Homo sapiens: one gene and its partners. The protein of the gene in region 1 interacts with the protein of each later gene in a pairwise test. Each region holds a gene or a part of one and is shown in the gene's direction. Other genes may lie near its edges. The genes, in order: EDRF1, PHYH, ATXN1 and SYCE1.

The links.
Region 2: the proteins of EDRF1 (region 1) and PHYH interact in binary tests that used the Homo sapiens proteins (3 or more experiments, as listed by UniProt).
Region 3: the proteins of EDRF1 (region 1) and ATXN1 interact in binary tests that used the Homo sapiens proteins (3 or more experiments, as listed by UniProt).
Region 4: the proteins of EDRF1 (region 1) and SYCE1 interact in binary tests that used the Homo sapiens proteins (3 or more experiments, as listed by UniProt).

The regions. Positions count from the first base shown.
Region 1 is NC_000010.11:125,722,062-125,729,995, forward strand, and holds part of EDRF1 (erythroid differentiation-related factor 1), read left to right. Parts: intron 1-1,006; coding exon 1,007-1,073; intron 1,074-1,749; coding exon 1,750-1,875; intron 1,876-3,256; coding exon 3,257-3,381; intron 3,382-3,620; coding exon 3,621-3,777; intron 3,778-6,941; coding exon 6,942-7,043; intron 7,044-7,296; coding exon 7,297-7,418; intron 7,419-7,934. UniProt on the Homo sapiens protein: Transcription factor involved in erythroid differentiation. Involved in transcriptional activation of the globin gene.
Region 2 is NC_000010.11:13,276,365-13,283,064, reverse strand, and holds the end of PHYH (phytanoyl-CoA dioxygenase, peroxisomal isoform a precursor), read left to right. Parts: intron 1-1,954; coding exon 1,955-2,089; intron 2,090-4,710; coding exon 4,711-4,764; 3' UTR 4,765-5,266; downstream 5,267-6,700. UniProt on the Homo sapiens protein: Catalyzes the 2-hydroxylation of not only racemic phytanoyl-CoA and the isomers of 3-methylhexadecanoyl-CoA, but also a variety of other mono-branched 3-methylacyl-CoA esters (with a chain length of at least seven carbon atoms) and straight-chain acyl-CoA esters (with a chain length longer than four carbon atoms).
Region 3 is NC_000006.12:16,750,996-16,758,929, reverse strand, and holds part of ATXN1 (ataxin-1), read left to right. Parts: intron 1-4,838; exon of another isoform or gene 4,839-4,887; intron 4,888-5,582; 5' UTR 5,583-5,697; intron 5,698-7,934. UniProt on the Homo sapiens protein: Chromatin-binding factor that repress Notch signaling in the absence of Notch intracellular domain by acting as a CBF1 corepressor. Binds to the HEY promoter and might assist, along with NCOR2, RBPJ-mediated repression. Binds RNA in vitro.
Region 4 is NC_000010.11:133,555,173-133,563,106, reverse strand, and holds part of SYCE1 (synaptonemal complex central element protein 1), read left to right. Parts: intron 1-2,953; coding exon 2,954-3,016; intron 3,017-3,746; coding exon 3,747-3,806; intron 3,807-4,155; coding exon 4,156-4,230; intron 4,231-4,892; coding exon 4,893-4,940; intron 4,941-5,188; coding exon 5,189-5,243; intron 5,244-5,950; coding exon 5,951-6,040; intron 6,041-6,284; coding exon 6,285-6,348; intron 6,349-7,059; coding exon 7,060-7,126; intron 7,127-7,203; coding exon 7,204-7,327; intron 7,328-7,399; coding exon 7,400-7,510; intron 7,511-7,668; coding exon 7,669-7,756; intron 7,757-7,934. UniProt on the Homo sapiens protein: Major component of the transverse central element of synaptonemal complexes (SCS), formed between homologous chromosomes during meiotic prophase. Requires SYCP1 in order to be incorporated into the central element.

The DNA.
Region 1 (7,934 bases):
AGCTGGTATTTTGGAAATTATCCTAAAGCCTCAGAAAATAAAAGTTATATTTGCAAAAATGCTGTTTGTTTGTAGCATCATTTATAGGAGCAAAAAGTTGGGAATAACCCAAATATCATTTTTTAAAAGAATGGCTTAATCAGTTGTGATTTGTCAACATAATTAAATGTTGTGAGGAAATTTGAATAATTATATTGACTCTATACAAATGCTGTGGCAAGTATTTATATGCTTATCTCATTTAATTCTCACAACAACTCTTTGAGATAGGCACTGTTAATTATATTGCACCTGAGAAAACGGAAGCTGAGAAGAGCTAAATAATTTGGCTCAAGCATACAGTAAATCACAAAGCATGCTTTGCTGTTAGGTAGTCCTTGGTAAGTGTCCTGACTCTGCCATTTAGTAGTTGGAACATGGTGATGTCGGGTACCTTTCAGGCTTATAGACTATAGATGTGCTTCAGGTGGTACGTGGCATCAGTTGGCTGCTCAATTAACATTTTTTTTTAATTTCCTTTTGTGGCTGAATTGGTGTCAGGTACATTTTTTTCATGTATTTTTTTAAGAGGTATTGTATATCACTAGAAACACAATCTCAGAAAGTAAAATCCTGATAAATGTTTCTGTTTCTGTTTTTCTTATCTCTCCACCTAAAAAGAATAAAGTTTTGAACTATTTTCCCTTGGAGACTTTGAGTTTTGTGATTACAAAAATAAAGAATAATTGTTTTTATTCTAAATATTTCCTACTGGATGCTTCTAATGATTATTACCATGTTTTATCAAATCTAAGATGCCATTGACTTTAAGACACACCATTATTTTAGTACCACTAAGAAAAAAAAACTTGCCAACTGTGATGGTGATACACATCCTGGTTTCAGAGTTGTTAAAATGTGGAAAATGTGTATCCTAGAAGCAATGAGCTACAGTATTGTTATTAAGCTCTACTTGCATGATTATGAGCATGACCTCATAACCTGTGTCCTTTTTTCTCTTTGGTAGCTTTGGCATGGCATATGACTTTATTGATTCAGTGGGAAATGATGTGGATGTTGTCTCTGACTCTGAAGTAAGTGTTATTTGTCGCTTAATGTAATTTTGGAGGTGTTTTGTGATAGGTGTTTTATATCATGCTGTGTTTTGCATAATATAAATGTGCAAGTCTTGAGAAATTAGTGATGAAATAAGATAAAACTTACCTGATTATTGAGTATCTTTTTTGTTGTTAAAGTATCATTGTTTACCACATTTGTATTTAAAGAGGAAGGAATAATCAATCCCCAAACACTGGCAGTGGTAATAATATATTGATGGTTATATTTTAATGATAGTAATTGAAACTGATAATAGTGTTTGGGATTATTCTGTATATGTTACCAGTTGAGTTACAAATGATATTTCTAGTAAAATCTATTGGATCCTTAGTGGCTTTGATCTGATATGCTAAAAGCCTGGGTCAGCATAACAGTGTGACGTATACACCCTTAACTTTAAGAAATCCTATCATGTAAAAATAAATGTTTGACTGTCACTAACATAATGTGACTCATAAAGTGTACGTGATTCTGGTTTGAAAGCTCCGTCCTCTGTGTGTTTGCATGTAGCTTTTTGTTTAAAGTTCTATTTGTATAACCTTAAGGAAATAAGGTTTATTATGCTTTAAAATGAATGAAGCTAAAATTTAAAAGATTCCAAATCACACTAAAACAGTCTTTCTAAACTATTTTTTCTCTTAATTTTTTAAGAACATAAAAAAACTCCTGAAAATTCCCTACAGCAAGTCGCACGTGAGCATGGCAGTACACCGCATAGGAAGGACTCTCTTACTAGATGAGCTAGATATTCAAGAACTCTTTATGAGATCGTCTCAGGTAATGCTTTTGTGAAAAAATCCAACAAAACATTAACAGCTTAAGAGCACTAGAAATACGATTTTGTTTCAGAGAATGGCCAAAGTGGAAATGTAGTTGAGTACTTCAACAATCGAGAAATTGAAAGTTTCACTGAAGATAGAAAAGCTTGAATGAAGAAAAAAGAAGAGAATGAGAATGGTGAAGAAAATTATTTTATTGATTCCAACAGCCAGATTCTTTTTTACAAGAAAAAAGATGAAGCCAATGAAGAAAGTTGTGAAAAAAACTGTGAAATTTAAGGGACTAGTTTAATATTTTTAAGAATCCTTTAACGTCTCCCTTAAACAGATTCTCAGGAAACACAGCTACTGGAAAATGTGAAAAATATTAGAAGCTGTTCCTATGAATAAATACAGTCATGTTCCCATAATGACGTTTCAGTCAGCGATGGACTGCATATACCGGTGGTCCCATAAGATTATAATATACTGTATTTTTACTGTATTTGCAGTGTTCAGATACACAAATACTTCAGTCACATGTACAGATTTGTAGCCTGGGAGCAATAGGCTATACCGTATGACCTAGGTAGGGAGTAGGCTGTACCATCCAGGTTTCTATAAGTAACACTCTGCGATGTTCACACCAGGACAAAATCACCTAATGACGCGCTTCTCAGAATATATCCCCATTGTTAAATGACACATGGCTGTAGTTATTAGAATTAATTGATGCTCTTTAGCCTAGATTCTCAAATTGTATGTTGGTAAGGACTGTTTTTCCCACATGTTGAGAATGGATACTTTTGAAAAACATAATAACATTGTTGCAGTTTCTCAAGAACTACCCTCCATATCTGTACTTTTCTTGGGCTGGCAAGAAATAGTTCATGGTCAGTCTTTAAAGAATATTACTACAGTGCTTTGATAAAGAAAATTAAATTATGGTGAGGTAAATGACATTTAAAATAAGTGCTTTTTTCCTTTGAAAAGACCACCGTTTAGTTCATCATGTGAGTATGAGCCTAGGCACGGGGATGTGACAGTGAACAAATCACAGGCCTTGCTCCTCAGCAGTTCATTGTTTGGGGTTATAAACACATACACAGATCATTTCAATATAGTGTGCAAAGTGGGAACTACTGCAGCTGCTAAGGAACATGTTATAGAGAAGACTCACCTCTCCCAGCCTGGCTTAGGAGGAGGAAGACGGGTTTCCTTTAGGAAACAAAAAACAAAAGAAAGGTGGTATGAATTGACCCAGAAAGATATGTTTTTAATGAGTATGTGTTTATGAAACTATTCAAAAAATAATAGGAGCCTTTTCTGTAAGCTAGTACTAGGTAACATTGTTTCGACTATGTGTGTTGTATTAATAATATGTATCTCATGTTATCCAGACTGGTGACTGGACATGGTTGAAAGAGTTTTATCAAAGACTCATTGATCAGAAGTGGCAGAGGAAGAAAAAGAGCAAAGAGCACTGGTATCAAAAGGCAATTCTTTCCAAGTTTTTATATTACAGGTACTTGGCTACTTATTTATCTCTAAAGAGAAAAAGGGAATTCTGATCTAAAATTTAGTGTGAAGCTTAATGAAGTTATAATTTAAGTTTTGCCCCTGTGATACTGTTAACATTTGTTTCATATTTCTTTTTTACAAGATGTATGCTTAATTACAGATTGTAGTTTTTATAAACGGGTAGACTGTTGCATGAAGTTAACTTTAGTAACAGCAATCCTTTTTTATTTCTGGTTTGGCCAGTATCAATGGTGATGGAGCCGCTCAGCCTGTCTCATCCACCGCAGAACAGCAGGAATCGTCCAGTTCAGATCAGACAAATGATTCGGAAGGGGCTTCATGGCCTGCTCCCTTCGAAATGCCTTCTTCAGTTTCTGAAGATCCCAGTGCTTCCAGTCAGGTTAGTACTTAAATGCTAATTCTAGAAACTCACATAGGAAAACAAAGCCTTTTTTAACATCTCGTTAAAAAAAAAAAAAGATGAACAGGACTAAGAAATATTCTGTCAGCTTATGGAATGGGGGAAAAAAGACTTCTGTCAATTTATGGAATTGGAGAAATACTTTTTAGTTTTTCGCAATAGAATTTACAAGAGCTATTATAGGTGGGGAGATCAGATTTTTTTATTAAATCGAAATATAATAGTTGACTGATATGTTTATTAATACTGATTATCTCCTTCAAGTGATGAGTATTATATAGAGATATAGTATATTTTAATTATAAATACTAGTCATTTTTAACTATAAATACTATTTTAACTATAAATATCTGTCAATATTTGATAGACATTTCCTACCAAATATTGAGACTCAGAGACCCATTTGTAATTTAAGTTCTAACCTTTTTACCATAACTTTCAGTCAGATTGTTAGACCTAAAATATCCCTTTAAGGTTTTCCAGATAAAATTCCTGAAACTTAGTCCACATTCATGTTATAAAAGTTTTAGAAAAGAGAATGAACTAGGTTGTCCATTTTATCTCTTACATCCTTGTTTCTTCCTAATGCTTGTTTATTTTTGTACTTACTGTATCTATCAAAGAATAAAATAAAGCCATAGATGTAAATTGTGACATGTCTATTTTCAGGAAAATAGATTGATAAATAGATAATAAGATCTGTGACTTGATAAGTTACGTCTTCCCTCTTGCTGTTGTGTTCCCACATATTGAGCACTATTCAACCAGATTGTTTCAATCTTCACAAATTACAGGGAGCAGATACATTTAACTCGATTTTAGTTTCAGTAGGTTTAAGATAGAGAAAGCATCCCATAAAACTCCATAATGAATTTAAATTTCTTTCAAAAGTGAGAAAAATGTAAGGAAAAGGAAGTAATTAATATGCAAGTCACATAGTGGTAACAACCAAGAAGTAGGGATGTTCTATGATTCAGAAGGGAGAAAAGACTACATAATACAAATACTACCCTCCTATTACCCATGTCACCCATCTCCCAGTGTTGTTCTGTCTTTACCTTGTTTAGGAATTACTGTGAAAACTCTTGGAGAGTCGGGAATCTGTAGACTTGCGTGTTGAGGAAGCAAGCTGGCATTTACTGAATAGCTCTTATGCCATGTGTATGTTTGTACAAGGTTTTTTTTTTCATTCTTGGAGCTGCGTATTGTACAAATAAGTAAACTAACGCTCATCAAAAGATGTTTCACATGGTCATACAGCTGGCGAAACTCTCAGGCTAGGGCTTAAACCCAGATCTTTCTGCCTGCAGAGGCCTGTTCCTCCAGCAGTACTCCACTGTGTCCGTGTACTCCACACACAGCAAGGCCCTACTAACAGTCAGATCATCGTAGTAGTGGTGTATCCCTAGGCACAGCTAGCCTGCCTTAAGAGTCTCTTACAGAGTACTTTTCTTATATTGCTTAAATTTCAGCTTTAGAGATTTGTTTATATTTGCAAGCTATCTCTGCACAAATTCTTGTTCCAAAAACTAAAACTGCTGGCTTGAGGCCTTTGTTAAGCAGTTATAGAGGTTAAATAGGTGACTGTGGGATGGTCCTAGAGCCAGACATTTATTGAGAACGTTGTAACCTAGAGCTCATACTCTGACTAAAGCAACTGCCTGGCAAACTGTTTTGAGAATCGGTTCATGAGTTGATAACTTGTCTGTGTAAACAAATAATAAAATAAAAAAGAGTTTAAAGTTCTCTTAGGACTCCTGAGGGAGAGGACAAGGCACAATAGAAGTGCTAGAGAGCCACCTGTGCTTATAGTCACACACTCTTCCCAAGCAGGTGCCAAGCCTACTGGCACACACAGATGACAAGTAAGACAGATGTTTGTGGAATAAGCAACACACGCATGCCTGTCTTGGGTTCTGTTGAGGCAATGACATTAAAAGCTTAAAGTAGTATTTCTTAATGGCAGTACTACTTTCCTAATGATTGGAAAATTGAGTGGTAGGCTGAGTTTACCCAGTGTCAAGAGGGCCCAAGTGTATTCCAAAATGCATTCCAGGCTGGGCGCAGTGGCTTATGCCTGTAATCCCAGCACTTTGGGAGGCCGAGGTGGGTGGATCACTTGAGGCCCGGAGTTAGAGACCAGCCTGGCCAACATGGCGAAACCCCATCTCTATTTAAAAAAAGAAAAAAAAATTAGCCGGGCATGGTGGCACGTGCCTGTAATCCCAGCTACTCGGGAGGCTGAGGTAGGAGAATTGCTTGAACCCAGGAGGCGGAGGTTGCAGTGAGCTGAGATCATGTCACTGCACTCTGGCCTGGGCAACTCTGTCTCAAAAAAAAAAAAAAAAGTATTCCAGAGAATATCTTAAGAACAAAAAGTGTTCTGAGATTAAATACATTTGGGAAACATTGGTTTTTACAAAGATAAAGTAGATTTTTCTATTGCAGGATTACTTATTATATATTTATTGTTTTAATATCAATAAATATTGTTACTCCACAAAAGTGAGTACCTGGTAAACGTCATCTTTCAAACCTGACTCTGGAAAATTTTCATTCAGTTTCCCAGGAACTAGTGTTCTGTGAAACACTCATCAGGAAATGCTAAACTGGAGACTGTTAAGATAATGAGTATCTCAAACTGTGGCTGAGTAAGATTTCTTAGGGTTTCTTTTTTTTAAGAGACAGACTCTCATTATGTTGTCCAGGCTGGATTCGAACTCCTGGGCTCAAGCAGTTCTCCCCTGTCGACCTCCCACATAGCTTGGACTACAAGCACATGCCATCGTGCCTGGCCAGTTTCTTAGGAATTTTTAAATTCAATATAGATAGAGTAGGCTGAAAGAGCAGTGGTAATCAGATGCACCAAAAAAGAGAAAAATGAAAAACTTAGAAAGTTTAGAATAATCTTTAATCTATCTCTCTTGAGTAAGATCTAAATGTGATTCGCTTCTTATAGTAGCTATGATCATTAGCCAAAGCAAGCCACCCAATGAGGCGTGTTATTATTTGTATTGGCCTAATAATTCACAATGGTAGATTTGAAGTGTGTGCTTTGAATATTTAGGTGATACTCTCAAAAGTGGGTCAATTTTAAGAAATGTTGACAGCAGAATCACTCCTTATCCTTGCACTTTTCACAGGGAAGTGAGCCTCTTGAACCCTCATACATAGTGGGGCATGTGGCCTCAGCCCCCAAAGAACAAAACCTGATTACTTTATTCAATGACGGGGAGCACAGTCAGGTATGCTTTCCATGGTGTCCAAGGTGACAGCAAATCCCCAGTCTACTTTGTCATTTCAAAACTAGCCTAAGTCGAAATTGATAGGGAAAAACTCCACTTGATCCTGAAACTGCTTTCTAAGCATCTTTGTGATCTTAGCTCTGGGGCCTGACTTTGTCTTCTTTGTCTCTTCCTTTTTCTAGTCTTTTTATGGATCATGGGGGGAAATTACAGATTGACTGTTTATTATAATCCTCCCTATTTTAAATCACAGGGTCTTAAAAATGATTTTGTTCGGAATATTCTATGGACATTTGAAGATATCCATATGTTGGTCGGCTCCAACATGCCCATATTTGGAGGAGGCAGATACCCAGCAGTCAGCTTACGTCTCAGGTGAACTAACATCATACCCCTCCTCAAGCTTATGGTATTTAAATTCTTCCTTTAGAATCAGTGTTCCATCAGACTGAGGTTGCAGTGAGCCAAGATCATGCTACCGCACTCCAGCCTAGGCGAAAGAGCAAGACTCGTCTCAAAAAAGAATCAGTGTTCCATCTATTTGGGCATCTTCCTCTTTCTCTAGGTTTTTTCCCCTCCCTCCTTCCCCTGCCAGTTGAAATGGCCACATTAAGGAAGGAGCTACTGTCAGCAGATGCTGAAAGGCAGGCCTATAGCTGAGTCTTCATTCTAGACCTCATTGAATAGAGCCAGAGGTTTGTTGGACTGGCCTAGTCTTAGGTCTGAATCTACAACTTGTGAGAATATTCAAGAGAGTTTATTTAATTAGTTAGATTCCTACTAACTACTTGTGAGCATTTTTCTTAATGCTCCACGTGTATTTGTTGATATTAGCCAATGTGAATTCCAACTTAAGCATGGTCTTGTATGGTGTTCAGTCTTTCTTCAAGT
Region 2 (6,700 bases), about 110 Mb from region 1:
AGGATCACTTGGGACCAAGAGCTCTAGACCAGTCTGGGCAACATGGCGAGACCCCACTTCTACTAAAAAAGAAAAAATCACTGTTGTCTCCTGAGGCCATGGGTTAGGGGCCAAATTTCGTCTTCCATTCATTCATATTTCCACCAGCCTCATCAGGGTCAGGATTAGGGTGGGACAAGTTGGGGCACTCTCTCCAGGGGTAAAATGTAAGGGGATGCCAAAAAAAGACTCTGCAATCGAGTTTAGTAACATTTTAATGCGAAATTTAAAAAAATCAAAATTAATGCAAAATACCCAATGTATTGGCTGCGCACAATGCCAAAAGTTTAAATAAAAGACACTATTGGACCCCACACTAGCACAACCTTCAGAGCTGTGCAAGTAGCGAGGTGCAGGCACAACGACACAAATCATGTTGTGGGTTTTAATATATAGACTTGGCAATTTTCCTTTTTTCTTTTTTTTTTTTTTTTGAGGTGGAGTCTCACTCTGTTGCCCAGGCTGGATTGCAGTGATGCAATCTCAGCTGACTGCAACCTTGGCCTCCCAGGTTCAAGCAATTCTCCTGCCTCAGCCTCGTGAGTAGCTGAGACTACAGGCACACGCCACTATGCCCAGCTAATTTTTGTATTTTTTAGTAGAGATGGGGTTTCCCCAGGTTGGCCAATCTGGTCTCGAACTCCTGGCCTTGAGTGATCGTCTCACCTTGGCCTCCCAAAATGCTAGGATGACAGATGTGAGCCATCTCGCCTGGCCCAATGTTTTTTAATGCTTTTATTTTAAAACATTTTATTATTTGTTTATATATTTATTTGAGACAGCATCTTGCTCTTTTGCCCAGGCTGGAGTGCAGTGGTGCAATCATAGCTCACTGCATCTTGGAACACTGAGGCTCAAGCCATCCTCCCACCTCAACCTCTCAAGTAGCTGGGACTACAGGCATGCATGACCACACCTGGCTAATTTTATTTTTTCATTTTTTGTACAGACATGGTCTTGCTATGTTGCCCAGGCGAGTCTTGAACTCCTGGCCTCAAGTGATCCTCCTGCCTTGGCCTCCCAGAGTACTGGAATTACAGGCATGAGCCACCGTGCCCAGGCTTAATGACTTTAATGTTCTGGGAAAATATTACTATAATTTCATAAAGATACAGATATAGGGGTGCGTGTTTTCCCTTTGCCTTGGGCTCTGTTACAGTGCCGTATGGCACCAGGGCTTACAGAGGCAATGGAGTTTGTGACTCCACTCCCTAGAAATTTGTTGTTTGGGGCAAAGTAGAAAGTCTTTCTGACAAGTGTGATCACTTGTGACAAAAAAGGTAAGTTTTAACGATTGCCTTGCAGCTTAGATCTGTTTATAACTTTTTCTAAAATAGGGAGAACCAAGCAATTTCATCCTTACCCTCAGAAGGAAGCAAGAGGGGTAATATATGTCACTGGTATTGGCTTTTAAATGTCCTTTTGATTTGAGAGAAGGTGTCTGCATTATTTTCTATCTCAAGGTATTTTTAGTTCTTTTCATAATCTATTGCCACTGAAATAACAATTCATCCCAAATTGGACCAGGTAACTAACTTATGAGATAAACTGCCGTGGAATGCAGTCCTTCTTAAGACTTTGGGATATTCATTCATTAGGAAAATAAAATGCTAAAAAAAAAAAAAACTAAATACCTCTTACTGACATAATTCCATTCCCTCTCCCATATATACCTTTCAAAAATACATGTCACATCTGGTTAACGATCTTTTGAAATTTCTCAATTAACTTCTAGCTGGAAACAAAAACAGGCTTAGTTACAAAGAGATTGACACAGGATGCAATGGACCTGACTTTCCACTTAGAAATCAAATACTGAGTGAAATAAATGACTTTCTAAAAGAAAGACTCCCTGCTTGGTCACTGGTATTCATGGGATGTTTTTCTCCAATATCAATTTGTTCACTTTGCACAGGCAATTTCCTGCCATTTCGCCAGTGCCGATTGCCACTACATTGACGTGAAGGGCACCAGTCAAGAAAACATCGAGAAGGAAGTTGTAGGAATAGCACATAAATTCTTTGGAGCTGAAAATAGCGTGAACTTGAAGGTATGTTTGTATACAATAGCAAGGTAAAAATCTCAGGTTTTTCTTTTCTTCAGATGCTTCATAATTCTCATACCTAGTTTATTTGACAGTATATAGTGCTTGGGTTTAGATTCATTTTAGGGACATCGCTGAGCCCCCACCAAAAATGACAATGGAATTTCCATTTACACTTGTGCCCCCGTGCAGGAGGCTTGAGAACTTCCTGCTGCTTCTTTATGTCTTGGGGCTGTCCAGAGGTGTGCTGGCTGTCCTGTTTCACACAGGACAGTAAAGGAAAACAAAACTACAGATTGAGATGAGAGAAAATCAAAGACAAAACCTTGCCTTCTGGCTGGGCATGGTGGCTCATGCCTGTAAATCCCAACACTTTGGGAAGCCAAAGCAGGAGAATCACTTGAGCTCAGGAGTTGGAGACCAGCCTGAGAAACACAGTGAGACTCCATCTCTACTAAAAAAGAAATAAAAATAAAAATTAGTCAGGTTGGGTGGAGCATAGCTGTAGTCCCAGCTACTCGAAGGCTGAGTTGAAAGGCTCACTTGGAGCTTGAGGTCAAGGCTGCAGTGAGCTGATTGCACTACTGCACTCCAGCCTGGGTGACAGAGTGAGACCATGTGTCAAAAAAAAAGCCTTCTGAAGGGATAGAAGGAAAGTTATAGGTTTGAGATCCAATCATAGGCCATGTTTATTAATATAGAATAGAGTATTTATGGCTGGGCGAGGTGGCTCACGCCTGTAATCCCAGCACTTTGGGAGGCCAAAGCAGGCAGATCACAAGGTCAGGAGATCGAGACCTTCCTGGCCAACATGGTGAAACCCCGTCTCTACTAAAAATACAAAAATTAGCTGGGTCTGGTGGCACATGCCTGTAGTCCCAGCTACTCGGGAGGCTGAGGCAGGAGAATGGTGTGAACCCAGGAGGCGGAGCTTGCAGTGAGCCGAGATCATGCCACTGCACTCCAGCCTGGGCGACAGAGCGAGACTCTGTCTCAACAACAACAAAAGAAGGAATCTTGCTTCTCCCTTTAGAACCTGGAAATGTGTCGCATCTCTGAAAATGCTCTGATTTTGCATTTGCAGGTCCTAGAAATTCTTGTCCTTCCTCACTTTTTGTTCAGTACCTAAAATGCCTATACATTTTGTCAACTGGAGCTTTGAGCTAACATCCTAAATTTTAAGGGAGAACAAATATATGTACATTATGTTTGAGGTTTGTCAAGGTTGTGCTAAATGAATACCTCCCACATTTAGTTTAATTACTCTGTAAGTTATATTTAGAATAACAATATTAACCTCTGCTACATAGTTCTCTGTAAAGTACAAAAGCACATTCATATTCATTTTCTTATTTTCTTCACCAAAACCCGGTGGGGCAGTATAAACTCCATGCTGTCAATGACAAGAAAACAAATCCCAGAGGCTGATCTAAGCTAGCTAAGCGACAAAGCTTGATTTTAGAGTCAGGTCAAATCTGAAAATTATTCTTTCCACCATACCTTGCTGTTTGCTCAAAAATAAACAAGAACCAAGAAATAAGAACATCTAAATTATTTTATTAAGGGCAGAGGGGGAAGAAACCCACCAAACAAAGCAGTAATCCTTGATACCATGTTCACTATTATCATCTCATCAAGAGTAGAACACTCAAAAAGGCTCAGACAAGTAACATAAGAGTCATCAGGCCAGGTGCAGTGGCTCACTCCTGTAATCCCAGCACTTTGGGTGTTTGAGGCGGGTGGATCACCTGAGGTCAGGAGTTTGAGACCAGCCTTACCAACATGGTGAAACCCCGTCTCTACTAAAAATATAAAATTAGCCGGGTGTGGTGGCACATGCCTCTAATCCTAGCTACTTGGGAGGCTGAGGCAGGAGAATCATTTGAACCCAGGAGGCAGAGGTTGCAATGAGCCAAGATGGTACCATTGCACTCCAGCCTGGGCAACAAGAGCAAAATTCCGTCTCAAAAAAAAAAATTATGCAGAAAAATGGCAGTGAACTGTTTGTTCTGTAACCCGACATGACATTGACCCAGTTATGTTAGCTGGCACCAACAAATATCCTGAATAAAACAGAACTGACAGCAGCTGGGGGACCCACTGACTTAATTTAGTTAACACTGTTTTAGAAGTCGGTTAAGTAGACCAGGAGTGGTGGCTCATACCTGTAATCCCAGCACTTGGGAGGCTTTGCAAGGCCAAGGCGGACAGATCACTTGAGGCCAGGAGTTTGAGATCAGTCTGGCCAGTGTAGCGAAACCCTGTCTCTACTGAAAATACAAAAAGTTAGCTGGGCGTGGTGGTGCACACCTGTAATCCCAGCTACTCGGGAGGCTGAGGCAGGAGAGTCGCTTGAACCCGGGAGGCAGAGGTTGCAGTGAGCCGCTGCACTCCAGCCTGGGCAATGGGGTGAGACTGTGTCCCCAAAAAATTTTTAAAAAAGAGTTGAGTAAGTAGTTTAAGTTGAGTTGTTTTGTTTACTAATGAATATAACTTACAGGGATTATTTTCCCTATGTAACCTTTCATAGAAGCTAGAAATCAATTTTGTGTTATGGTGAAATTGAAGGTTAATGGAGGGCAGATTGAAGTGTTCCATAAACCCACTCTGTTTGATATTATTTCCAGGATATTTGGATGTTTCGAGCTCGACTTGTGAAAGGAGAAAGAACCAATCTTTGAAATAGCCATCTGCTATAACTCTTTCAACAGAAAACCAAAACCAAACGAAATGTCTAAGGAAAATGTTTTCTTAATGAGATGATGTAACCTTTTCTATCACTTGTTAAAAGCAGAAAACATGTATCAGGTACTTAATTGCATAGAGTTAGTTTTGCAGCACAATGGTGTTGCTTTAATGGAAAAAAAAAACAGTAAAAGTGAAATATTACTGTTTTAAGGAAAACTAATTTAGGGTGGCAGCCAATAAAGGTGGTTGGTGTCTAATTTAAGTGTTAAATCAATTTCTTTCATTCAGTTAGCTCTTTACCCAAGAAGAAGTGAATGATTTGGAGCTTAGGGTATGTTTTGTATCCCCTTTCTGATAAACCCATTCCCTACCAATTTTATGTCATAAGAGATTTTTTTCCCCCAAATCTAGAACAATGTATAATACATTCACATCTAGTCAAGGGCATAGGAACGGTGTCATGGAGTCCAAATAAAGTGGATATTCCTGCTCGGACAAGGGCTTTCTCCTGTGATTTCTTCAACCCAACCATTCCCTTAACAAGAAGACTTGTTCTTTCCAGTCCTTTCCTCTGTTCCTGAAGAATGAAGACAAGGGCCAGGTGCAGTGGCTCACGCCTGTAATCCTAGCACTTTGGGAGGCCGAGGTGGGTGGATCACCTGAGGTCAGGAGTTCAAGACCAGCCTGGCCAACATGGCAAAACCCCATCTCTCCAAAAATACAAAAAAAAAAAAAAAAAATAGCCGAGCGTGGTGGCATGCACCTGTAATCCCAGCTACTCAGGAGGCTGAGGCAGAAGAATTACTTGAACCTGGGAGGCAGAGGTTGCAGTGAGCTGAGATCACACCACTGCACTCCAGCTTGGGTGACAGAGCAAGACCCTGTCTCAAAAAAAAAAAAAAAGGAATGAAAAATAAATAAATAAAAAGAACGAAGATGAGGGTGACTTCATTTGATGTATCTTATTGGGTAGGGCTGCTGGAAACTTTCCACATTTATGAATGAAGCCTAACCTCCTTCAAGCTATAGGGAACTTTTTAGATACTTTTCCCTGGATTTGGAGTGAGCATGGACTGAACAAACTTATTTCAAGACAGCACCATATTTTCGGTACCAGCTGAGGGCAGCAAGGAGACATAGTCCTTATTTTTACAAATTTTAGTTAGGGCTTTAGTAAGAAAGAAATAACAGAGTACCTTTCTTGTCATTCTGCTAAGCACAAGTTTTCCTAAATCTAGTGTTGCCATGAGTGCCGTTTTGTTTGTGAGGACAGCCAAGTGAAGCTCATCTCCCACTGGGAACTGGAGAAGGCAGATCACTGACAGAATCTAAGGAAATTAGATTATGGGATGATTGGAAATAAAACGTAATAAAGGAATGCCTGTGTAAACAACATGTGGGGAGCCCTGCTTTGTTATGGAATAAACTCTAAATTGTTTCAAATTTAAAGTGAATATGAAAAACTAAATTTCAGTAGGAATATTGAAGAGCAATTTGTTATTTCCTGTGTGCCTTTGTGAGTGAAAACCAACTGGTTGCCATCAGGAAACATTCATTTCCCATCTGATCCATGTCCCTTTTGTCCATTAGTGCATGTAAGAAATATTCAAGCACCCACTCTTTTTTTTTTTTTTTAATTTTTTTGAAGACACGGTCTTGCTCTGTCACCCAGGCTGGAGTGCTGTGGTGTGATCTCAGCTCACAGCAAACTCTGCCTCCCAGGTTCCAGTGATTCTCCCGCCTCAGCCTCCCGAGTAGCTGGGACTAAAGGTGCACGCCACCACACCCAGCTAATTTTTGTAGTTTTAGTAGAGACGAGGTTTCACCATGTTGGCCAGGCTGGTCTCAAACTCCTGGCCTCAAGTGATCCACCCACCTAGGCCTCCCAAAGTGCTGCGATTACAGGCGTGAGCCACCGCGCCCGGCTAA
Region 3 (7,934 bases), on another chromosome or scaffold:
GAACTCTTGGAAAGGGATTGCACCATAACGGCTAGCGCTGTGGCATTTAATCTCCTCTGATTGCCCTCTCACTGTGCATGCATCAGTCAATATTTTAGCAGCTCCGCAAATAAATGGACTTGAATGCCATCTTCTACATAAAGCAGAGGTTGAAGGGCTCCCCTGAACCTCCTGGCTGCCTGTCAGTGGTGTAGGTTTTCGGTGCACTTACTCCAGTCCTGATCACTCATGTAATTAGATCAGGCTGCCATGGCAACAGACAGTGTTCCTCGTCCATTCAGGTGGGTTTGTCTTGTGCCTGAACTACTCCAAGTGTTTTATGCACAGCATTTATGCTGCCCAAGCCAGACGAGAGACTCCACTATTTCAATTGCATCTTCTTTCAGTCATTTGGATGGGAGACACTGAATGAGGCTTCTAGCTACTCAACTTTTATAAAGGAGACCAACAAGCTGTTCTTCCTAGGTGCAGTATGTAAATGCATCTCCCCAGACAGTGAAAGGAGCCTGACAATCCTGCTGGTGTTTATTGTGAACAGATCAACAAGTATTTGGTACTTGTTAGAAACCTTTCAGAGCTCACTAAAGCAACATTTCTTTTGCAGTCTGGTGCCTTTGGCCTTGCAGTCAGTCACTTAACCCTTTCAAGTGTGAAGAGCGTTCATCATTTGGAACCTCCATTGCCCATAGCGATGGCTGGATTTCTAAAGGGTTTACTCAGGGGAATAACTTATTCGGAAAATATATTCCCATTGTCACATTTTAAAACTTGACAGCCATCATAACAAAAACTGGTACTGACAGTAGGCAGACATTCTGAATGTATTCATTCTTAATTTGGATCTATTGGCTGTGATTTGAATGATCTTTGGTAGTAAGTTAAAAGGATTTTTTTTTCCTTAGCTAAGCGAGAAACGATAGAGGCCTATAGCTAGAGGACTGATAGTGCATGGTGCTTTTGGACAATAAACATGTACTTTATTTTAGGATGTAATTTAGTGAGCAGTTAGAAAGCAGTATTCTAGTCTTTGCATTAGGGCACCACTGATAAAGCTGGCTAAGCAAAGAGAAATAATATTATGGCAAAAAGGAAAAAAGGAAAAGTTGCTTTAGTTGCTGAAGCTCTGTGCTGCTCAGGCAATCCAACTAAGTGGGGCAGGGGGCGGGCGGGGGGGAGTATTTTCATAACCCTGGTATTTGAAAGAAAAGATAATTGAGAATTATGTCTTGATTTAGTTGTGACTGCCAGTCAGTTTACAATTTTATGGCCAACAAAGCTAAACTGGTAAATTTTTTCCCCCAGGGCTAGGATTGAGAGAGCTACTCAACTCTATTCCCAGGGGGTTTATGAGTTTTTACCGTTTTGTGAGTTTATGTGGTTGGTAAATTCATTGTGGCCTGGTCAGATGAAGCACTGCTGTAGTTAAAATGAGCTATTATTTCTTCTAGCTACTCAACTTTTATAAGGTGGTAAATAGATGGGAAGCAAGGATGTCAATATTACACAATGCCTTGGAGGTCCTGGATTCTATTTTGCAACATATAGAAAAATGCTTTACTTGCAGTAAAATGTGAACATATATTTTTCAGTGCACAAATAAATTCATGTGAAAATAAGTATAAAAAAATGTACCTGGTGGGAACCGCCAAAGGCAATATTTTTCCTTGCGGATTTCGTTTTAAGAGGGTTTGGTAAACAGAAGTGACACTTTGTCAAAAATGTTACGACTAGACTTCAGGACTTCTGAATTGTCTTTTACACTTAGAGGAAGATTAAACAGAAACTCTTTAGCCACAAGATTACATGTCAAATGCCTGTAAGTTTCAACATACCTAAGTCAGTTGCCTAGGAGTCCTGGGAAAGGCCAGTGCTGAGATTATTGAAATATTAGTAAACATTACTATGACTCCTGTTTTTGTTGTCATTATGGAGTCCAAGGACGCACATTTCTTTGAATAATGTTGTGCCTTTATTGTTTTTCATTCTGAAATGTCAAGTGGATTTTACTTTTTTGCACATACCTTGAGTGACAGTTTCTGATGACTAACACTAACACTCATTTTGTTTCCTATTAAAAGTTAAGCAATAAACATATTTTACTAAAATTCTGAAACTCACGTAAGTAGGTAAATGTGGGAGTGAATGTTAATTCTTTAAACTGTAGTTATCTGAAAATAACACATAGATTAGGATCTGAACAGCTTAAATACTTGCATCGGTAAAGTGACAATAGTGAAGTAAGACAGGCTATTATTTTTAGGGGAGAGATAGATTATTTGACTTTCCTTGCTCTGTATTTTCAGAGTAATTCAATAGTTCGAATGATTAGTTTCTGTGAGAGATTTAGATCTGTGCAGCTTAATTGCTTCAAATAACAGATTTAGTTCTGGTCATACTTCCAAGGTTATCAGAAGCAGGCCCTCCTTATTTTGATAAAAGCATTGAAAGCAATACATTGTAGAAATGGTAATAGAAATAATAATTTCTGTTTTAGGACCTTACATATAGAACTTCCTTTTCTAAGATAAGAATTTTAAGTCATCAATTATGTTCACATTTTATTTTCATGTAATTTAGTTTAATAAAATAAATGTACTCATTCAAAATTTTTTTAAGAAGTGATATACAGTGTCAGTTTTACAGAATTTTTTAAATGTTGGCTGAAAGAACGGTAATTACATTGAGATTTTTAAAAATATATAAATGCTTAAAATTACAGAAGTAATAAAAAGAATGGTTTTAGACAAATCTTATGGAAAGTTTTTTATTTTATTCTTTTATAATTATATTTATGGATATTTGTCTTTATTAGTGTAGTAATATATTTTATAACGCTCATAATTTGAACTTTCAGGCTAATGTACTATAAATATTTGTATTACGCATTACTACCATCCCAAATGTACCAAAACACGTTTAGAGAGAACAATTATGGACAAAAAAGCAACAAGCATTATATTTTGTTTGACATATTTCATGTTAGCAGAAATGTTTCATTGATTTTTCTGTAACTTTTAATGCATCCCATTTGTGGAGTAATGAAAATGTAATGATAATTGCCACAATGTAAGCAAAAATTGTATCCTACCTGAAAATTACTTTCCAGAAAATTCATGGTAGTGTACTCAGAATTTGAGACTCAAGAGGGCAGAGGTTTCCCCGATTGTGATGTTTTGATTTGGGCTAAGAGGAACTCTTTTTTTTTTTTTTTACACTTAGGTGCCCTTTAACATGACAAGTTTTGAATGAGTTAGGTAGCAGAAGTTTTTCGTGACAGTTATTGTAGCTACTAACCTATAGCATCTATCCTTCTAACGTTCAAAGAAAATATATTTTTCTGTCACTGTGTATGGCAAACTTTATTTTCTTGTGCCCTTAATTTTGTTCCCCTTTCTCACATTATCTCCTGGTACTTACTGACCATTACCTCAGTTTTGTTTAGGCCGTCTTTCTTGTTAATCTTCCAATATTAATAGTATTGTATTATGTTGCTCTGCTGGGTTTTAAAAATATTGAGTATTCCATTTTTGGTGTATATTATTGTATAAAATGTCCTATAAATTATTTTCTGGTATATTATTTTGTAAGTTTTTGCAGTGAATACGTGCTGCCTTGCTTGTATTCTTGCCTTCTTCCCTCTGATGGAATACAAGTTATGTAAACTCTCTGTATTATCCTAACTAGTGCAGCAACACAAATACTTTTGAAATAAGAAAGCATACTCATGCAAGAGTAAAGTAATCTTCTATGGCATTTACATCATGTTTGACCCTCCTCTGCACTTCAGCAAACTAGGAGGAGGTTGTAACTTGGACTCTATAAAACCTTATCTGCCAGGTGATATGTAAACAGGATTGTGTGCACACACATTGTCATATAGGCAAACACTCTCCCAACTGGTGAGCTCATAAAAAGCACTGTCTGTAAATTTATGGTACCTGCACCTCATTTGAGAATCAAGTATTTTGATGCTTAATTTGAGATGACATCATGATCCTCCCTCCCTGCTTCCTCATCCTTAAAGAAGTACTAAGATTAAATAGAATTTTGTCAACTTCTACTTAACTTGGCCATTATTTATATTTGTAACTCAACAGGCTTCTTGGTGGAGGGACTGTGCCTTCTAAAGATCTGAAAGACCTTATAGTGTATAACAGCTTACCTTCCTTCTCTGTACGCACAGATCACATGTGGGGAAACCAAGGACTACAAGAATTCCTTCTTTTGCATATCAGTCCTCGGCAGGCAATCAATGCTTAAATAAATGCTTGGTGAATGGATTAGTTAGAAGTAAGAACATTTTGGCTACTGTTCATTACTTTGAAAAGTGCTGGAAAGAAGTGGAAGTTATTTTCCTTTCCAGCTGGGCTGTGCTCTTAAAAATAGTGAGTGTGTATGGATGAAAATAATCATGAGTACCGAGATGTGTTGCCATGTACCCAAGGATAATTGGCTCACTTACCTGTTTACGGATTATTCACATTGGAGATCATATTCATAGCTCCAGAATAGTTTCTTTCTGACATCCAATATAAACCTGGGCCTCCTTCTTCCTACTGTTACCTGGCGTGAGCTTAGGAAACCCAAACTAAGTTTAAAATCAGCCTAAGCAAATGTGCAGATCAGCTCCAGTAATCAAAGACTGAAAATCAGTCCAGCATTCACTAGTTTGGGGATGATTTTATAGTAACCCTGCTACTGATTTTAAAAAAATTTTTTTTTCTGTTTAATGTGGATAATTGGTAATTACCGGTATTTAAGAATATAATTTTAATGGATAGGGCTAAAAAAATACGTTAGCAGATCGAGTCCTCAACTTCTTCCGTTTCTATGCATAGGTTTTACCTCACAAAAACTACTACAAGCACCAAGCTCCCTGATGGAAAGGTATATGGAAGATTCATTCATTCTTTCTTTCATTCATCCATTCACACATTCACTCATTCATCATACAATGGAAAATTTTTACTTAACCATGTGCAAGGAATTGTGGCAAAATGAAAATGAGATGTACATTCAGTATTTAAATAAAGTTTAGTGGAAAGTTTAGTGAATATAAATGCACACTTTACACTTTTTTTCTGCATTTTTTCCTTTCTTCTATTCCATTGGACTGGTATGCTAATAGCTGTGCACTTTCATCATTGTGTTTCAAGTTGCATGTTGATAGATAATATATGCCACATTAAAATTAGGCTTTGGCTCAATTACTATTCAATCCATGCCCATTTTCACCTGATACTCCTTGTAGTTACCAGCATGTGTTTATCAGATGATTGGCTAGAATCATTGGAGAAAAGAATGACAGCGGCTGGCTCAAATGGGGAGACCATCCTCTTAATTTGATGGAAGGGATGACCTTTTTGTATGTTGGCCTCCCTCTGAGCCTTGTTGAGTAAAACCAGACCTGCCTTTTGAGCTGGCTGGGATCTGTGTAATTCTCATACAACAGAATGCCGAATGTGATGTTCTTAAAATTTGTATTTCGGTGCATAGACACTTAAGGTGGACTTATTTTTTAAAGCAGTCTATTCTGTTTTTCATTTTGGATTTCCTCTCCTGCACTCCCTCGACCATTGCAGGAGCATCGTGCATCAAGTCACCAGGGTGGTCCATTCAAGCTGCAGATTTGTTTGTCATCCTTGTACAGCAATCTCCTCCTCCACTGCCACTACAGGGAAGTGCATCACATGTCAGGTGAGAGTTTTGCGATGCTCTCTGTTTTCCATCTGAGGATAAAGTCCTGACCTGGAAAATTGCCTCCTAGCCATGCTCCCTTACTTTGTTGGCTGTTGAATATCATTTTCTTTGCAAACTCTGTTTGGGCATAGTGTGGGAAGTTGAGAAATTGCCAAGATTGTTTTTTAAAACTTCGATTAAAGTATCTATCTATTTGGTTTAATCTATATGTTCATGAAGACTTTCATTTGACTTTGCGATGATTGATAATTGCCAATTGGGGCTTGAACCTCATCATTTTAATTGTCAGTTTTCCTTAATACAATTAAGAATGCTATGCTACCAGATATCTTAAGTCACAGTTTTTGCATTTTAGATTACTGTTGTAGTATAATATGTGCGTAGCAAAACAGAGACCTATTTGTTTAGGGGAACCAGTATTTGTTGAATCTTGAATTTCTTTGTGTCTGTTTGGATTTTACAACTTCCTGATTTTCCCACGTACAGTAAGTTTTTCTGGCCTGGAGAGTCATGCAGACATAGGGTGTATGCAATGGTGATGACTCATGGTTCTCTATTGAAGAAAGGGCCAGAGGATATTGCCTCAAATTAAATCAGGAAGGAAAAAGAGGTTTGCTAGAACTTGGGGCAGTAAGGGCTTGGGAACACAAGGGTTTGAGTGTATGTAACCAAGGGAGATTGTGAAATAGAAAATAGGGGATCAATTTCTATTTGCCTTGGAAATGGACCTGCTTGAAACTGTGAAGACAGACTAGATTAGAGGTTCCCAAGCCTGGCTAGGCAACAGAATCACCTGGAGAGCTTAAAAAAATAGAATTTGGAGCTCCACCCTAGACTTGATGAATCAGAATGTTTCCTGCTGGAATCATTGATCTGTCTAGGCACTGATGCTCCACAGGTTTGGGAACCCCTGGGTCGGCCGGTCTTCCAGCAACTCTTCCTAAGTTATGTTCTGTAGACTTAGTTGGTGAGAAGCTCATTCTACTTTTAGCAAATCTCCCATTTGAAAATTTGAATTTTCAAAACTCATTTTTCAAGAGGTAGATGGATATTTGCTTTATAACAGGTTCATTTAAACAATAATTGACCAGATTTCTTTGAAGAAAGAGCTGCCTCTTTACCGTAAGAGCCAATTTTTAAGTTACATATAAATTCTCTGGCATCTTAGATAAGAGCATGGAGCTCCGTAATCAACCCATCTGGACTTAAGATCTGGAGCTGCCACTATGACCTTGAGTAGTCCTATGTCCTTTCAATGCCTCAGTTTATTCATGTATAAGATGGAGGTAATATTAGAACTTTCTTATAGGGCTGCTGTGAGGATGGACTGGAGTAAAATAGTAGATATACTGTGGGTAGAATAGTACCTGGTGTATGGTTTGTATCTTTTAACAGATGCTATCAAGTAACTTATCCCTCAACAGGTTGATTGTTATGGTCATGTTTTATGATGGTTGCTCCTGAACCATACATGACTAGAAATATGTAAATATACCTGGACCTTGGTCTTTGGACCCACCCTGTAGACATCTACGGCTCTGCAAAGCCAAGGAGCCTTTTATTTGTTTTTGCTGAATTTTAAATTCTGAATTTATCACAACTCTCTGACTGATGGGATGCATGTGTGGTTTTTTTTTTTTTAGATTGTTGTAAAATGAACTGATGAATTGCATGCATAAATGTGGTTATTTGTGGTCTGAGTAAAAATAAACAAAAACCTGAGTGACTGAAGTATTATGCCTCAGGAAAAACAGCCAAAAAAGTCCCAGTGGGGGACAAGGTGGAGGAGGGAAGAGTCATCACAGACACGATACTCTTGTAAAATATGGAACTGGATTCCTTACATTTTATTGGCTGTGGATTAGAGAGGTGTTCTTTAAGTGGAAATGTAACCTAAAGTTACATGCAAAGGTAAGCCTCTTAAGATCTACAAGTGTCAGCTGAATGAAAAAGGTAGGGTGGGCCAGGCACAGTGGCTCATGCCTTTAATCCCAGCACTTTGGGAGGCTGAGGTGGGTGAATCACTTGAGGTCAGGAGTTTGAGACCAGCCTGGCCAACATGATGAAATCCTGTCTCTACTAAAAATATAAAAATTAGCCAGGCATTGTGGCAGGTTCCTGTAATCCCAGCTACTTGGGACACTGAGGCAGGAGAATCGCTTGAATCCTGGAGGCAGAGGTTGCAGTGAGCCCAGGTCTCGCCACTGCACTCCAGCCTGGGCGACAGAGTGAGA
Region 4 (7,934 bases), 7.8 Mb from region 1:
TGATTGGTAAAAATGAAAAACTGGGCATCTTGTATACATCAGTGTAAGGTAATTTGGTATTGTCAATCAAAACTGTTACAAACTTTGGTCAGGTGCCTCTGAGCCTTCTCAACCGTGCCTCGGCCTTGGCCTTGGCCTGTGATATGGTTTGGATCTGTGTCCTCACCCAAATATGTTGAATTGTAATCCCCAATGTTGGAGTTGGGGCCTGGTGGGAGGTGGTTGGATCACAGGAGACCAATTTTATTTAGATAGTGACTACCTATCTTTTAACTGGATCTCTGAGCTCTGGGAAGAGGCCACACTGAATCCTGGGTCTGCAAAAAGGGAGAATTATTATGAGGCTCGACCACATGGATGCTTTTACAGTGTACTTAAAAAACATTAAAAAAATATTTCTAAGTGTCTAAAATATACTCTTCCTTAAAAATGCAGGAGTAGCTTCTGTTGCAATAATTAATAAACAAAAAAATCAGGTAACACAATACAAAAGCAAACAGTTTAGGAGCTGACATGAACTTGTGTGTTTACACTCTTGGGGATACACAAGGAAAAACAATTTTCTCCACAAAAGGGAGTCTGGTGCCTTCTCCATTTTCTTTAAGGAACCTCAGGCTATTATAAACTATTTTAGGTCCCTCATGCAGCAGAGCGTTCAAGGGAAAGGAGAGACAGCAGAACTATATGAAGAAAATAGCATTCAGTCAACTGAAAAGAAAAAAAACTTTTGCCCAAAAAACACAAGGTCCTAGGAGAGAGAAAAAAGAAAAATCATGAAGCCCTTTTAAATACACACACACACACACACACACACACACACACACACACACACACACACACACACATTGGATGTTAGCTTTTAATTAAGATGACTTTTAACCATTTGAGTTTCTTTTTAAAAAATTTTTAAGATCTCATCAACATATTTCAGCTAGGACAAATATCTGCTATTTCAGAAGTACCAAGTATCAAACCAGAAAGGTCTTGATTTAGGAACCAAACCCAGGCTGTCATGGAAAAAAGAAGACAGAACCTTAGCTATGGAACTGCAGTTGGGGTGACAATCCTTTCTCTTTCAGTTTGGCCTGGCTAGCAAAAAGGTGGCCTTGTTATGTAAATAAATCCCCTTAAGTAGTCAAAATCAAAAATCTTCCCCCCCTTTTTTCCTTTTGCTGGCTGTTTTTTCTTCCCCCACCACCCCTTTTCTGGTGGGAATTTAGCCACTTCAGAGGCCTTGTTCCACATAATTTGGAACTTTCCTTTGGATTTGATCAAGTCAGAATTGGCCAAACCCAATAGGAAAAGGACCAAAACAACAAAAACAGAAAGAAACAACAACAAAAAAAAATACCAGTTAAGCAAAACAAACAAATGATCACACAACTTGTATGGTTACTGGACACTCTAATGATAAGGAAAAATTAAGACCAGCTGGTTGTTAATTTTACCTTTAGCCAAGACAAACCCCAATTCAGTTACTTACCTAGGGATGGGTCTTAGGCTGAAGACTGCTCTCTATCATCTTAGAAGCAGGAAAAAAACCCTCAAACTTGTCTTCCCTGTTGGGAGCGAGTTCAAACTCCAGAAAGGAACTTTCATGGAAGCAGGAAAACTTGCCTTCCTTGTTGGAAGCAAGAAAAACTCCAAAAAAAGAGTAGAGTTGTTTAGAAAAATAAACTTTGGATCTGGAGCGAATTTTGGGAAATGAGGGATTCCCTGGATGGGGGACTTCCAGAACTCAGCAACTTGTCATATTAGTTTGAACCATAAAGATAGCTCAAGCTGCTAGCAAGCACTGATAGGATATTTGTCAAAGGTCAGGGGCACCTCTACTCAGAATCCCTTTGTGGTTGCCAAAATGTGAAACCCAAAAATCTGAGACAGGTCTCAGTCAATTTAGGAAGTTTATTTTACCAAAGTTAGGGATGCATGCCTGTGACACGGCCTCAGGAGGTCCTGATGACCTGTGCCCAGGGTGGCAGGGTGGTCAGAGCACAGGTTGGTTTTATGCTTTTTAGGGAGACATGAGACACAAATCAACATATGTAAGATGAACATTGGTTCGATCTGGAAAGGTGGGACAACTCAAAGCAATGATGAGACAACTTGAAGCAGGGGGGTTTGCTTCAAGGTCATAAGTAGATAAAAGACAAATGGTTGTATTCTTTTGAGTTTCCGATTAGCCTTTCCAAAGGAGGCAATCAGATATGCATTTATCTGAGTAAGAAGAAGGATGACTGAATTATTTTCAGATATTTATTTTACAAAATCAGATATGCATTTATCTCAGTGAGCAGAGGGATGACTTTGAATTGATTTATTTTCAAAGATTTATTTATAAAAAGATTTATTTTCCTTTCACAATGTTAATGCCATAAATAGTAATTTCTTAGATCTACTAATTTTAGTGTTAAAAATAGGTTCCAATAGTGATTATAAAAAATTAACATGAAATATTTTATGGGGAAATTTCAGGGTTAGTATTGGTTGTATGTAGGAAAGCTTGTTTGTATTTATATATGTTTTTAACCTAACATCTTAATGCATTTTGTTACTAATCCTTATGGTTTTGTAGAAAACTCTCTAAGAACTTCCTAGATTATGTCATCTGCCAGTTACAGTGATTTTTGACTCCTTGCTCCAGTTTTTTATACCCTCATTTTTTTTCTTGAATTATATCAGGAGCTTTGATCTTACTTTGAACAGCCTCAGCAGTGAGAGTGCACCCCTGCCCTCACCCAGAGTTTTACAAAGAGGATATCTGGTATAATTTTACCTTATAGGGAAAAGCTGACCATGGAGGAGCCCGATTCATCTAGTGTACTGTCCACCTCAGGACAAGAAGAAGGGGCACCACTCTGGCTGGAGACCTGCCCTCAGCCTGCCTCAGTCTCAGCCCAGGGGTGGCCTCTCGCCCTGCTTGATTCTGAAATGTTTGGTTTTGTCTCCACAGGGCAGGACACGTCCTCACAGAAAATTGAAGACTTGATGGAAATGGTGCAAAAGCTGCAGAAAGGTCGTGTGTCTCCTTTGTGTGAGGCACAGCCTGAGGTTTGGGGCCAGGCAGATGTGGGTTTAATTTCAGGCCCCACAATGTACGAATTTGGGAAATAATCCTCTTCACCTTCTCTTTCTTTTAAAACTTAATTACTTAAACTAAAAATAGGGCCCCATGTTTCAAAATTAAAGAAGCAAAAGGGTATAGAAGGCAAAATGTTTTCCCAAAACCCTGTCCCAAACCTCTCGCTGGTCACCCATCTGGCTCCACTGCAGTCCATTAGATCCAGAAGTTGCCGCCTTCACTTCCCTTCCTTCCCCCTCACCCGCTACTCCCTCTTTGCTCGCTAGGCTCCTGCCAGCCATGTTCCCACCTCATGATGGGTCTTTGCACTGACTACCTCCCAACCCCACCCAAATTGCTGCAGGGCCTGCCCCCCACCACTTGATTTGGGGCCCTCAGGTCCCTTCCCATATCTCAGGAGCACTTCCCACTCCTTTGCTCTTTAGCCTCCCTTGGCCTACTTCATTTCTCTTGAACACGGTTACCGCAGCCCCATTCGGTATCTTATTGTGTCTGTTCCCAGTCTTGCCCACCCAGAACGTGAGCCCCGTGAGGGCCCCACAGAGCACCTGCTTGCAGGAGGTACTCAATAGATCTGTGTTGCGTGAAAGCAGCAGAGACACAAGGCTGGCAACCGCCCCAACTCTGCCTGCCCTGTCAACTCAACCTCCTTTCCTCCGTGCAGTGGGAAGCCTAGAGCCCCGAGTTGAGGTCCTGATTAACCGGATTAATGAGGTCCAGCAAGGTGAGTTCAGGGGCCTTGGCTGCCAGCTAGGACCAGCTGCATGGTTTGCGGGGCTCAGTGCCAAGTGAGAATGCAGGGTCCCTTGTTCCAAAGTTACTGGTTATTCACAACAGCAACAGCAGAGCCTTAAATTAAGTACAGGGCATTTCAGCATGCGACTGCCATAGTTACATGCCCATGATCCTGGCCCTGCTATCAGCAGAGCCTGGCAAGGAGAGCTGGAAGCCTCGTTTCCTACTCTATAAAATCTAGGCCACTATAGATTTACCTGAAGGCAAATGAGAAATGTCACTGTTGGGAAGAGAATAGAGGCTGCACTCACACAATGTTTTTCTGCTCTTTGGTGAAGCAAAAAAGAAAGCCAATAAAGACCTAGGAGAGGCCCGGACCATCTGTGAGGCCCTGCAGAAGGAACTGGACTCGCGTAAGAGAGCCGGGGGTCACCCAGAGGTCCCCACAGTGTCTTAAGCCTCCCCTAACCCTGTATTCCAGATAATCAGCATCCTTGCCATGGCCAAGGGTCCTGTACCCTCTCTAGCCTCATGTCCTGCCAATCTCCCCCTCTCCTCTCTGCTTGTGGGAGTGTTCAGGAAACACCCTCCAACCTCATTCCCACCTCAGGGCTTTTGCCAGACGCTGTCTGTGCTTCCTCAGATAATACAGGTTCCTCTTTCCTCACATCATCAGCTCTAAGTTAGAATGTCCCCAGACAGGATGACTGGCATTCCCCAATCATCCCATTTAAAGATGGCACCCTGCCTCCATCTGGTCACATGCCCCATCCTATTTGATGTGTTTCTTTATAGCCCTTATCCCACTTCGTGGGTGTTGGTATTTTTTCTCTCCTCCCCATGTAAAAGCACGAGCATCCTCCAGGGCCCTCACAGCCACCCTCTGTAAATGTGAAGGCCCTTTGGTGCTTACAAGGAATGTGGGCACCAGAGGGTAGGGAGGGGCTCACCTCAAGGGTTCACATTTGGGTTGGGGCCAAGGCTGTGCCCAGCTTCCCATGTGACCGTGAGCAAGCCCCATCCCTGAGGGTGCAGTGCATAGTCCCTGATGCCAAAATGTGTCACTGTTTTCTAGTGCATGGAGAGAAAGTACACCTGAAGGAGATCTTGAGCAAAAAACAAGGTATTTGCCGCTCCCCTGTCTCCAGGCTTGTGCCTTTGCCAACCCACAGAAGCCCACTCTCCCTATGGCAGCTGAAGCCTTTTGAAACCTGTCCCAGCTTGCCTCTCTCCTGTGGCTTCCACCAGACATGTAGTAAATGTTAAAGCTCAATCAGGTGTCCACAGACCTGACATGATCTGGCTGTGTTCCCCCTGCCAAAACCCAATACCTTGACAGGTTCTCATAGGGCCCTGTTGCTCTCCCTACAGAGACCCTGAGGATCCTCCGGCTGCATTGCCAGGAAAAGGAAAGTGAGGCACACAGGTAAGAGCTTCCAGCTGAGCCTAACTCTGCACTACCTCTTTATTCTGGTAGAGCAGAAAGAGGCAGGAAGATGAATCTGAGACCCACAGCTCTCATTGTTTCCCTCTAAACAATGGAGAGTCCAAAGAATGTCTTTCCCCTTCGGCTCCAACAGCTGGCAGTAGTGTTAAGGGAAACTCTCTCAATGGCAAGACATTCATTTGCTAAATTGTCAATTAAATTTCTTCAGCTGGTTTTTATTTTTTGCCTTTTACTCTTTGTCATACTCCTTGGATGTCTATTCACTCATCTGTCTGTTCATTTAGGCATTGAGCCAACCATTTGTCCATTCTCTCTCCATTCATCCATTATCTTTTCATCCACCCATCGATTTGTCCATCCATTTCTCCACCTCCTGATTTAGCTCATTTGTTACCAGAGGCCCCAGGCCCTGGCACACTGAGATTTCAGCTCTTTGGGAAAACGAGATGATACTAAGATGTGTGTGCATTTGCTCACTTAACCATGTCCACATTAATCTCTCTTAACCTGACAACAATACTTCCAGGGGGCAAATGGTCATGTCACTCCCTACTTACCACATGTTACAGAGAAGGACCTTAATGTAGAGGGAAAAAATAGCCTCAATAGAGGGAGGCAGAAGCCCCAGCCCAGTGCCCTCCTGGGGCTTAAGAGAACATGGCTGAGGGCTGCCTCGCCTCTCCCAGGAAGCACACCATGTTGCAGGAGTGCAAGGAGAGAATTTCTGCCCTGAACTTGCAGATTGAAGAAGAGAAGAACAAACAGAGACAGCTGAGGTAAACCTTAGCATCTGAGGCAGGGGGTTTGGATGGCCAGTAGTTGGGATATAATGTCAAAGATGGGGGTTAGAAAAGCTGGCTACACTGAGCCATGGAGATTCAAGGTGGTGAAGATGTTCCCAGTGGAGCAGAGACCATGGGCAAAGCACCCCAAAATCTGCCTGAAGAACCACAGACTTGGACAGGCTGTGAAGGTGGTGATTTCAGCCCATATCCCCTCATGCCTGTGGTTGGTTCCCAGGTTGGCATTCGAGGAACAGCTGGAAGATCTGATGGGCCAGCACAAGGACCTCTGGGACTTCCACGTGAGTCCCTCAAAGCCACTCCTCCCCCTTCCACATCTTCCCTAGCAGCACCAGGCCCAAACGGTCACTTCTTCCTCTCACCTGCCACAACCAGTCGCCAAGCAAGCCCTGGTGGTGCTAAGATCGACATTGCCTGAATCCAGTCCCTTGTCACCTCCTTGTGACCCTGCTGCTCAGTGGTCAGGGGGATCTCTGATGAGACCAAGGTCAAGTCTTCCATCACTGTCCGTGGATGTGTCTGGGACCATCACGGGCACAAAGGAGACAACGAGGATAAGCAGCCCGTGTTTGTCCCCCAGGAGGATCCTAGGCACTGAACAAGAAAATAGACAGTGAGTGTCAGGAAGGAAGGGCTCAGTGAGGAGGTCACACCAGGACAGAGGGGAGTGGGGAGGAGCTGCAGAGCTAAACCGGTACCTGATCCTCCAGAAAACAGCCAAGACTCACAGTGCTTGCAGGTTTATCTGTTGTAAATAACAATCCATGAGCATCCCCACTGCAGTACCGCAGAGATGTGGGATGACAGAAGTGCACAGGGAGGGAATGGCCAGTGCCATGGCCCTGAGGCTGTACTGTAGCTGGTGTGCACAGAGGGGCAGAGTTGTTGGAAGTGAGGCATAGTGAGTAAGTATGAAACAAGATCCAGATAGCCTTCTTTGAGGCATGGGGGAAAGCCAAGAGGAGTGGACAGGCCTCTTTTCTGCCCCTCAGATGCCAGAGCGGCTGGCAAAGGAGATTTGTGCCCTGGACAGCAGCAAGGAGCAGCTGCTCAAGGAAGGTGAGACCAGGGAAGGTGGATGGCCCATATCTGACCTCACGTGCCTTCATGTGCTCACCTGCCCCTTTGTGCTGCAGAGAAGCTGGTCAAGGCGACACTGGAAGACGTGAAGCATCAGCTGTGCTCCCTGTGTGGGGCTGAGGGCCCCTCCACCCTTGATGAGGGACTCTTTCTCCGCAGCCAGGAGGCTGCAGCCACAGTGTAAGATGTGGAGGGGAAGAGGGTGGGAGGAGGGAGTGGCCGGTGCTGACCACCCCCTACTGGGCCCCCCAGGCAGCTGTTTCAGGAAGAGCACAGGAAGGCTGAGGAGCTCCTAGCAGCTGCTGCCCAGCGCCACCAGCAGCTGCAGCAGAAGTGCCAACAACAGCAGCAGAAGCGGCAGAGGTGCGTGTGGAGGCCCTGTCCCCGCAACCCCCACCAGGAAGATGACTGATGTTGTATCTCCTCTCTCCACCTTCTGTCTCTCTGACTCTTGAAAACCTCTTGTCCCTCCTCCACCCTTTCCTCCTCTTCCTTCCCCCATCCTACCTCTTCCTGTCCAGGCTGAAGGAAGAGCTGGAAAAGCATGGAATGCAAGTCCCTGCCCAAGCCCAGAGCACACAAGAGGAAGAGGCTGGCCCAGGAGATGTGGTAAGCCCCAGAAGTGGGCGTCAGGGAACAGAAACAGCTACTGAAGGGACAGCGGAAGGGGCGGGAGGACAAGGGAGGGGGTCCTGGGACTCCTCAGAGGATGGTCTATGGGGAGGGCCTTTCCCATACTGGGTCCACCCAAGGTGGTGATGGGGCAGGAGGGGACCATGTGGCCATG